2 separate regions of the Homo sapiens genome follow, and region 1 is linked to region 2. The links come from fine-mapping of genetic effects on gene expression. A gene starts in region 2. The other region holds a variant in brackets. All regions are shown on one strand. Distances are from middle to middle. Region 1 overlaps DNAJB14 (DnaJ heat shock protein family (Hsp40) member B14). Region 2 holds the start of DNAJB14 (DnaJ heat shock protein family (Hsp40) member B14).

Region 1 (5,392 bases), 42 kb before region 2:
AATAATATTACTGAAGGAACACAGATAAAAAAAATGCTTGTTATACGATCGTAATATTGCTATTCAGCAAATAAGTACTTCTGAGGCTTCCTTCAGTGTGTGGGACAGCACAGCTACTAATGATATACAGACTACAAATCAAAATTCTTCAAGGAGTATTTCTTGTTTTTTCCTGTTACTCTCAGTCATTTCACTGTTTATTAATACCTGTAAAGACTAGGAGCACTTAAAGAAGATGTAACAGAAAAAGAAATCAGTTACTTTCTGGAACACAATGGCCAAAGTAGAAGACATCTGGTTTATATGGATTAGTCAAGATCACATTCAAGATATACTCACAGTTAAGACAGTATTCCATTTGTAAAGATCTCCAGAAATAATCTTTACTAAATCAACTGGACTAGGATTAACAACTCAATCAATATTATCCTATGCCTTTTATTTACACATAATGCGCTTATATCTATTTACAGATGACTCTTCCCAAAGAAGAAATTTGAGACTTAGATAAACCGAAGTTCACACTGCTAACGAATGGCAGAGTCTAGATTCCAGTCCAACTCTCCAATGCCTAGCCTAATATTCTTTCCATTATTTCAAGTACTGCTTGGGCTGGATAATTTTTTTGTTGTGGGGGGTCTGTGCATTGTAGGATGTTTAGCAGCATCCCTGGCCTTAACCCGCTAGATGCTAGTAGCAATCCCTTTCCATTCCCATCCCATGATGACACACAAAAGTATCTCCAGACGTTACCAAACATCTCTAGGGATGGGTGGGGTGGGGGAAGGGTGGCAACTCACTCCCAGCTGAAAACATAAAAATCACTAGTCTAATGTAAGCTTCTCCACACTGAGGACAGACTGATTTCACAAACTCATTGAGTTAGAAGTCAAAGAGGTCACATCTCTAACTGCCACTAAATAGAGGAGAAAACCAAGACCAGAGAGGTTAAGGACTCTCTTAGAAGTTACATTTTATCAACTTTTCCCTAGCAAGGGGGAGATGATGATAATTGCTGACATTTTCTGAGCATTCACTATGTGTGAAGTACTTTATTGCCTGATTTAATTTTCACAACAAACCCCATAAAGTTGGTTATTTCTGAGAAGACGTTGGAGCACAGGGCCTGGATTCTAGAGACAAATTGTCTGGTTTTCAATCACAAACGACCTCTATGACCTTGGGCAAGTTAGTAATCTCTCTTTGCTTCAGTTTCTTCATGTGTAAAATAAGTATAATCTCACAGGGTTGTTGTGAAGATTAAATGAGTTAATACTTACAATGTGCTTGGGACAGTGACTGAAACAGGCATTATATAAATGATAGCTATTATTTCCTCCTCCCACTCATCATCACCCATTTTACACATGAAACTCATAGAGGTTACAATTCGTCAGCTAAAAATTTCAGAGCTAGGATTCAACTTTACTCAGTTTAATTCCAAAGTCAGTTCTCCTAACACTACACTATATGGTCTACATTATTATTCACAACAATGGTCACAAAAACAAGAACCACAACACTCAATTCACATGCAACATCTCAGCAGATTCTTATATCAATCTTTATAGATGGAACTGTTCCTTAAATTAAGAAAACTGAGGCTGGAAAAGCCTAAGCAAATGAAGTGTTCTGAAGAGTCTCTCTGTGTACAAAGTAAAGAAAAAAGAAATGTCAACAAAACTCATTGTACATTAAATTCTAAATACAAAAGCTAAATTAATAGAGTTTCAAACTTAACTCTGAAAACAGTATGCATCTTAAAATTGATGACATAGTTTATCTGCCAGGATATTTTTTGTTTCTTGGTGGTACATAAAAGAATGATGTGTCTTATGATGGATATTATCAATACAATAAAATTTGGTATTACTTATTCAACCAAATATTTATTGATAACAATAGACAAGTACCATTTATTAAGTCCTTACTATGTGTCAATTCCGATGTTAGGCCACATGTATATAAAACACATGATCTCATTTAAGTACTGTGCTCCAATTATGTGCCAGGGAATTCCAGAACATTCCTTGAATAGGGAAATCTACATTAATCAGTTCCAAAGACTGCGAATAAGTTTTAAAATGTTAAACACATGACAAACTTACTTTGTTGTCTTTCTTTCCAGCAGTTATTTCGAATATTAGTCACATAATCTTCCTCCACACTCTTTTCTACCTTTTGTAATAACATTCCTTTATATTCATTTTTGAAGTCCTTGTTGACATAATAAACAACACCCAAGTTTTCTGTTTGCATTTTAATAGTTTGCCCAGTTCCACTGTAAAAGAGATGCATCATTATTTTAATTAAAATTGGACATTCCAATATGCTGCTATAAACCAAGCAAACAAAAACAATTAAAAATCATTGAAAAGTTAATATTGGTAATACAGGTTGAGCATCCCTAATCCGAAACTCTGAAATCCGAAATGCTCTAAAATCTAAGACTTTCTGAGCATCGACAAGATGGCACAAGTGAAAAATTCCAAAGCTGACCTCATGTGATGGGTCACCTTTTAATCAAAACACAGCATCATAGGTGGAAACTAAAAGCCTGTAGTTGTTTGTCGTTGCTATTGTTTAACAGCTGACACGGGTATTCTGGTGATGCTAATATGCTGGTGGTTATTTAAACCTGAATACATTATTTTTTCACTGTTAAATACTTATATGTGAATTAGAGTAAGAAAATTATTGCTTATCAGTAGCATATAAATTCAGAGTCAGGAATGATGCCAAACAACCACAGGTTGTCCACATGGGTGGCTGAGATAGTGATACCTTTGCTTTCTGATAGTTCAATGTATACAAACTTTGTTTCATGTACAAAGTGACTAAAAATATTGTATAAAATTACCTTCAGGCTGTGTGAATAGGGTATATATAAAACA[T/G]AAATTTCATTTTTAGACTTGGGTACCATCCTCAAGACATCTCATAAAATATATGCAAATATTACAAAATCTGAAAAAATCCAAAATCCCAAAATCCAAAACACTGCTGGTCCCAAGCATTTTGGATAAGAAATACTCAACTTTTAATTTATTTACATTCTCTCACATTGCCTAAAACCATGATTTCATGTCACAAAAAGTAACCACATTTTTAAATATACTATGCTTTTGTAAAGTATCTCAATTTTTTGTTAATAAAAATCTTATTTGTATTATAAATTACAAAAATCAACTTGTAATTTATTTACGTTATCTCAAATTGCCTAAAACCATGATTTCATGTCACAAAAAGTAACCACACTTTTAAATATACTGTGTTTTTATAAAGTTATCTCAATTTTTTGTTAATAAAAATCTTATTTGGAAGAAATAAGGTAATTGTTATTTTTAGACCAATGTGATTTTAATACTGTAAAATCACTGATTTTTATTATTTTTTCTTTATATGCTTCTTATTTATTCATGCTGCTATAACAGCCAATATGATGTTATAGTTTCCTTTATGTTCACTGTATTAAAGTTGTCTAGATTGCATGCTGTATTAAATTTCCTTTATGTCCTGACCTCTTACACATAAAGTATATGGTGAAAAAAATACATCATAAAAAAGTAATATTTGCTTTTATTTAATCGATATTTTGCAAAATGAAGAGTAAAGTCATTTTCCCCTTAATGATATAAATCTATGTAACATCAATCATTGCTCTGTCTTTAGTTTTGTCCTTTAGAGTATTTTTTGCCTTTAATGTCAACACATTACCTACCACATTAAATTGTTATCAAGTTCAAATATAGCATTTCTGTCCTTATCCACAGTGGAAGAATAGAAATGTAAATTAACAACATAAGACAAATTTATTACTTAAAGTAACTATTTTAAAAAATTAGATAGAAATTTAAAATCTGGTACACTTGCAGTAATAGATTTGGCACTTAAAAGTTTAAAAGAGCACAAGCTCTTTAAAGGAAGCTAGGTCAGAAATAGCAACAATTCATTTTTTGTAAAACTTCACTTGGCTACTTACGATCTGGGATATAAGGAATAAGGAGGATTAGAGACCATCAACTGGCTTAATAATGACACGAGGATCAATACAATTATGGGCATCAGCTGGATAAACACAGAAAAACCTCCCTATAAAAAATGATCAAAGAATAACAAATTGTAATATAACTGTAGTTGTTAATAATACAACAGTTGTCATACATTTTGAGGCAGAAAGCGCATTTGAGATCATCTAGTTCAGTGCTTTCAAATCTGCGTAACCATGCCAATAGGATGATTCTTAAATATAATTATCCAGGCATATCACCAGGAGATTCTGATTTGAAAAACACTGATAAAATTTGATTTCATTTTATAGATGAGGAAGTCTTCATTTCTTTCTCTTTCTCTTTCCCGACTCCCTCCCCCCCACACACAGAGACGCTATCAATATGCTGCAGGCTGTAAAACCATTTTTTACCTTGGATTTGAGGGTAGAAGATGGGAGCTGATGAGTGGCAAAGCTGGGGGCCAGGCCTTTTAATTTCTAGTCTAGTGCTCTTTCCATTTACCTTTCCACTTCATGTAATTAAATTGCTATAGGCAATTAGGTATAACTGCATTAGAACAAGGAAAGTTACCTCCAATTCAAGTTTTTCAGTACTCTAAATTCTTCAGGGCCAACAATAACAAGTTACCTTCACAACATGCATAGTGCAGGTGTACCTTCATTAGAATCATAGAATAACAAATCTAAAGGGGTCATACTATCCAACCACCCCTGGCTGACCTCTCTTCCTATTCCTACAATGTCCCTAAGGATTTTCTAGTCTCTACCAAACACCTCTAGTAAGAGAAAACTCATTATTTCCTACAACTACTTGCCCTCTTTTCAGACAACTCTAATTACTTTTCCTGAGCTGAAATTTGCCATTTTGTGATTTCTAGTCATAAACGTACATCTCCTCTTTCCTCTTCTCTTTCATGTCCACTATGTCGATGCTGATGTTGTTGGCTATAACCAGCTCTTCCATTTGAAAAAGAATGTACACTACCTAAAAAATTAAAAGCAAGGTTAAATTAGGGAGAGCAATTATGATCAGAAAAAATACATTTTCTTTCACATTTTTCTTTAATTTTAAAAAATTACTAAAATAATGCATGTGTATTTTCAGTAGTAAATACTTATTGCCCTCTCCTCTTGTAAGTGAAGGGTGGACAGAAATAGGAATGATTCTTCCCAATCTGCTTCCGTTACAGGTAGAAGTTCCTTCTTTATGAAAACTTGACTAAGAGTTTCTCTACACACATAGAGGTTTTTATAAACCTCTTTTGTTTATGATTAGTTGTGATTAGTTGTTTTTATAAATGTTGGATTATTACTTTGAAACTTTGCTTTTTGCATTTATCAATGAATCATAAACATCTCTAGAAATCAAAAGATAGTGTTCAA
Region 2 (5,392 bases):
TGTATTAACCCATTTAATCCTCACAACAGCACTATGAGATCAGTACATTGTCTCCATTTTACAGACGAAAAAGCTAAAGGCTAGAGAGGTTCTCTACCCTGCTCAAAAATAAGGTTACAAGCTAGTAGGTGGAGTCAGACTTCAAAAGCCAAGTTATTCTGTCTAGACTGCCTACTCACTTAATGTTAAAACTGTCCCTCTAGGACTAGATAATGACTAAATGAAATCATATTCAACAGTAGGGGAGGATTCAAAAATAATTAACTCCTGGCAATGATTTCTTGAATATGACAGCAAAAGCACAAAAAAACAAAGCAAAAATAGAAAAATGGCACTACAACAAACTTAAAAACTTATGTGCATCAAATAGCACCATCAACAAAGTGATGAAAAGGCAACATATAAATAGGAGAAAACATCTGCAAATCACATATCTGATAAGGGGTTAATATCCAGAATAAATAAGGAACTCCTACAACTCAACAAAAAAAAAACAAGTAATGTGATTTAAAAATGGGCAAAGGACTTGAACAGACATTTTCTCCAAAAATGGGATATTATAAAACTAGCCAATAAGCATATGAAAAGATGCTCAACATCACTAATCATCAGAGAAATGCAAATCAAAGCCACAATGAGATATCACCTCCCACTCAAGGATGGGTACTATCAAAACCAACAAAAACAGAAAATAGGTGTTGGCAAGGATGGTGAGAAACTGAAACCCTATGTACTGTTCGTGGGAAAGTAAAATGGTGCAGGCGCTACAGAAACTGTATTGTGGTTCCTCAAAAATTAAAAATAGAATTACTGTATGATCCTACAATCCCACTTCTTGGTATCCAAAATAATTGAAAGCAGGCTCTTTGCATATCCTTGTTCATAGCAGCATTATTCATAATAGCCAAGAGGTGAAAGGAACCCAAATGTCCATAGACAGATGAATGGATTAACAAAATGTGGTGTATATATACAATGGAATATTATTCAGTTTTTTTACTGTAGCTTTTTTTTGGTCTTTTTTTTTTTGTTTTTTTGAGATGGAGTCTCGCTGTGTCGCCCAGGCTGGAGTGCAGTGTTGCCATCTCGACTCACTGTAACCTCCATCTCCCGAGTTCAAGCGATTCTCCTGCCTCAGCATCCCCTAGTAGCTGGGATTACAGGCATGCACCACCACGCCTGGCTAATTTTTTTGTATTTTTAGTAGAGATGGCGTTTCATCATGTTGGCCAGGCTGGTCTCGAACTCCTCACCTCAAATGATCCGCCCGCCTCGGCCTCCCAAAGTGCTGGGATAACAGGCGTGAGCCACCGCGCCCAGCCTAATCAGTATTTTTTTAAAGAGGAATTCTTCACGTTACAACATAAATGAAACTTGGGAACATTATGCTAAGTGAAGTAAGACAGTCACAAAAAGATACTGCATGAATCTACCTATCTGAGGTAACTAAAGTAGTTAAATTCACAGAAACACAAAGTAGAATGGTAGTTGCCAGGGTCTTAGGAGACGGGGCGGTAGGGAGCTGTCTGATTAGTACACAGTTGTGTTGTAAGATGAAAAAGTTCTGAAGAGTCCTTGCACAACAATGTCAATATACTTCACTAATGGACTGCACACTTAAAAATAGTTAAGACCGTAAATTTGGCAGGTTTTTAAACCACAACTTAAAAAATTATTAACTCTTTTCTTTCATTTTATTTTCCTGTCCTCATGGGTATAGTGTTAGAAGGCAATGTAATGGAAAGGATAGAGAGAAAAGCAAAGAGCACAGGGCTTCAACGACGTAGAGAAAAAAATTTAAGAGACAACAAAACAAGTGGCCCCATATTTTCATTAATAATTTTCTACAATTAATTGAATCTATCGATAACTTTCTTCTTAACCTGGAAATACTAATGGCAAGGCAACAGTGTAGCGGTTAAAGGCCTTTTCGAGTCTGAAAGTTCAGCTACTATTCTGACTTTGCTACTAATTGTTGTGTGACCTTGGGTAAGATACTTTCATTCATTCGCTAATTCATTCATTAATTATCAGAAAGTCTGTTTCCACGTGGGTAAACCTGGTCAAATGAATCCTGCACCTCTACACAGAATTGTTCTGAGGAATAAATGAAATAATCCATGCAAAATGTTGGGCACAACTATTGGCACTTTGTGCTCAATAAATGTTGGCTATTATTACTCCGAAGCCTATCGAGTAGGAAAATAAATAAGCTGACTTCAACTAAAGGAAACCCAGTACCATATTCCTCAGAGATTTGGTTCGTCGATAATCATGGTGTTATCAAATCAGATACTCTTCAGCAATCATTACTGACTCTTGACCATTCTTGCCGAAAGTGTGCTCTTCTCTTTTAAAGGAACTCTCTCCCAGGGAAAAGCAATGTCATCTCAGGTATTCGATGTTTGCTTTGGGAACAGTTTTCTACAGATCTCAGAAACATGGAATCTGAGATTAGCCACTAGAGTACACCATTCCTCTCACTTCGATAGGGGCCTAGGCCTTATGTAGGACTGAGAATGGGGAGGGAGGGGGCCACATAAACAACACAGATACAAATAAAGCCTCACTGTGGTAAGACGGGACCAGACAAGTCTCCTCCAGGGAGAATGAAACCCGGACATTTAGGACAGCGGAACGCGGAGCCGGCGGGCAGGCGGGTGCAGAGGAACCTCGCGCAGCATTCCCCGAGCCCCAGCCCGGAGCCGGGGCTGGGGCCAGGGCGGGGGTGTGTCGGGATGCTCCCCACCGGGCCTGGGGCTGGGGCTGGCTCAGACAGGCCGGGGGCCCCGCAGGCCTCCAGGAGGGGCCGAGGTGGGGGCAGGGGCGGGCTACGCGGTGGTCTGGGGATTGGGCAGGAAGAGAAGGGACGCTGAGGTCTCACCGCGGGCCGAGGGCAGTGGGTAGAGCTTCTCGGCCTTCTGCAGGAAGCGCTGGGCCTTCTCGCGGTTGCCGGCGTTCAGGGCCTCCCGGGCGATCTCGACACATTTCTCAGCCTCATCCCTGTTCCCCTCCATAGCTTGCTCCTTCTTCCGTTTCCTCCGGCAGCGCAGCTAAGAAGGGCGGAAGCCGCCGCCGCGGAGGAGGCGAGGCGGGACCGGCTGGGGGCGTGCGGCGGCAGCGGGGAGGAGCGCAGGGGACCGCGGCAGCGGCTGCGACGGCCCGGGCGGACGGGCGGGCCTCGCAGCTCCGCCTCCTCACGGCGGCCTCCCCGCCCCCCGCGGGCCCCTAGGGCGCGATCCGCATCCGTCCCGGCCCAGGACCAACCTCCTGGGCCGGGGCGTCCGAGCTGACTCGGTGGTCCGCGCACGGCGCCAGCAGGCTCGAAGCGGACCTGCCCGGGAGGCGGACGATAGCAGCCGGGCTGCCCATCGCGGGGAGGGGTTCCGCCCGGGACCCGATTGCCGGCATTGGTAGCGCCGTGCCCTGTGACCTCCAGGCGAGGCCCTCGCAGCTCAGGCCAGGAGGACAGGGTCCGGGAAGGGGACACTCGTTTTCAGTAAAATTGCCAGGACTTGGAGGTTCCGCCTCTGGGCCCCTCAAGCGAGGGAGGATGCGGTCAGGTGAGGACCAAGGTGTCAGTCCAGTCTCAGCACTTCCGGGACACGTTAGAGCGTCGTTTGAACCTAATCTTAGGGCTTGTATGGCAGCCTTATTTCAGCTACATTTTTTCTGACCCGGATGTCTGGCTATCCAAAGTACAAAGCAGTTTAATTTGTAGCTTGCAACGAGTGGTGCAGATCGACCTTAATCCTGTGTAGCCAAAACAAGGCAGGAATCAGCCCCTCAGGGGCTGCCCTAACGAAAGCAAACTTTTGATTTCACCTTTTCCGTCCCATTTGGATAACATTACCACTTGGAAGTACCGTGTCTTGTTAGTCTTCGCGGTGGGGGTGGGGGGAATGTTTGCTATGTGCAAATTTTTTAAAAAAAAACATGACAAACTGTCAAAATGACCTGCTCAACCCAACCACAAGGTAACAATTTTTACATAATGCTGTGAGCCAAGCTGTTAATTCTGCTAACTACCATAACTCGGTACTTTCAAATAAGAAACCCTGCTTCTCTTCGATAAAATGGAGATAGTATATCCCCAATGATGTTACTGAGTACTTAACAACTTCAGACTTCAAAGCAGGGCCTGGCACGTAGCACTATTATCTTTAAAGTTTAAATTCGGAGTTCATTCTGTGGATATACAGGACATTCCTACCTATTCTCTCCCTCCCCAAGTCCACCATGCTAACAGCATACTAGTGCAGTGCTGTCACACAGCAAGCGAAGCCAATGTACAAACTGAAATGGTCACACTTAGCCTAAGAAACTGACAATCCCACTCCAGCTCCTGCCAACTTTTTAAATTAAAACTTTAGTAGCTCATATAACATTAAAAAAATATACTTGGGCTATCTCACTTTGTTGATCTACAGATTTGACAGTTCAGTCACAAAGAAATGTGCTTAGTTATTGCTGCTAGATGAGATACTCAAAACAAGTTCCTATTACAACCAAGCAAATTTAATACACAACTAGTTTGGGATATGACCTTTATTGAACTTATCCACCAGAGTGGAAATAATGTCTGTACAAAACCAAATGTTTGTTACTATAACTTCTGCATCACAATTAAAATCCAAACAGTTTTTTAAAAACAGTCAACTCAATCAAAACCCACTACTTCAGAATCAATAGCTTCTTTGAAGCCACAGTAACACTTAAATATGGTTAAGACTCGAATGCAGAAATTTGGTTGGTTGGAAAGCTAATTAAACTTCCAACTTGCTCAAATAGAATTACAAAAAGGCAAAATTGTGTTTTTCACAGAGATACAGTCCACTGGAATCACCAACACTGGACAGCTGTTAGAGTATTTAGAGTCCTGAGATAACAAGGAATCCAGGCATCCTTTAGACAGTCTTCTGTTGTCCTTTCTTCCCAATCAGAGATTTGTGGATGTGTGGAATGACACCTAGGAGAGTGACAGGAATTAATTCTACTTAAGATTTTTTAAAAAATCACAGTATTTGAAACCAAGAAAGTGTATACTGTTCAACTTGAAAGGTATCTTTAAAAACATGCAGCTCAAGTATGAAGTAAAAATTCATTGAGTTATACATATAAATCAAATTTCATGATACAACCATACTTCCATCATTGAAAATATACTTAAATTTCCTCTCCTGGAAAAACTAATTAAAAGCAGCAAAAAATTCCTTCCTCTGAAGAAATTTTTTAAAATGTTAGAAGTTAACATACCACCACCAGCAATTGTAGCCTTGATGAGAGAATCCAATTCTTCATCTCCACGAATAGCAAGTTGCAAGTGACGAGGGGTAATACGCTTTACCTTTAAGTCTTTTGATGCATTTCCTGCCAGTTCAAGTACCTAAAA

Evidence for each region.
Region 1: its variant is fine-mapped to the expression of DNAJB14 in whole blood (INTERVAL, PIP 0.91).

The regions. Positions count from the first base shown.
Region 1 is chr4:99,901,618-99,907,009 of GRCh38, forward strand. It overlaps DNAJB14 (DnaJ heat shock protein family (Hsp40) member B14), which reads right to left. Exons shown (of 8, transcript NM_001031723.4): 5 at 4,900-4,994; 6 at 3,980-4,089; 7 at 2,109-2,281. Among named protein-coding and RNA genes, the nearest start is that of LAMTOR3, 9.9 kb to the left of the region's middle. The variant T/G (reference allele first, on the strand shown) is at 2,895.
Region 2 is chr4:99,943,555-99,948,946 of GRCh38, forward strand. It overlaps DNAJB14 (DnaJ heat shock protein family (Hsp40) member B14), which reads right to left and starts at 3,064. Exons shown (of 8, transcript NM_001031723.4): 1 at 2,885-3,064. The coding sequence starts at 3,017. It overlaps H2AZ1 (H2A.Z variant histone 1), which reads right to left. Exons shown (of 5, transcript NM_002106.4): 4 at 5,257-5,386; 5 at 4,534-4,969. The coding sequence ends at 4,908. RefSeq lists enhancers at 2,448-2,497, 5,375-5,392 and a silencer at 2,668-3,327.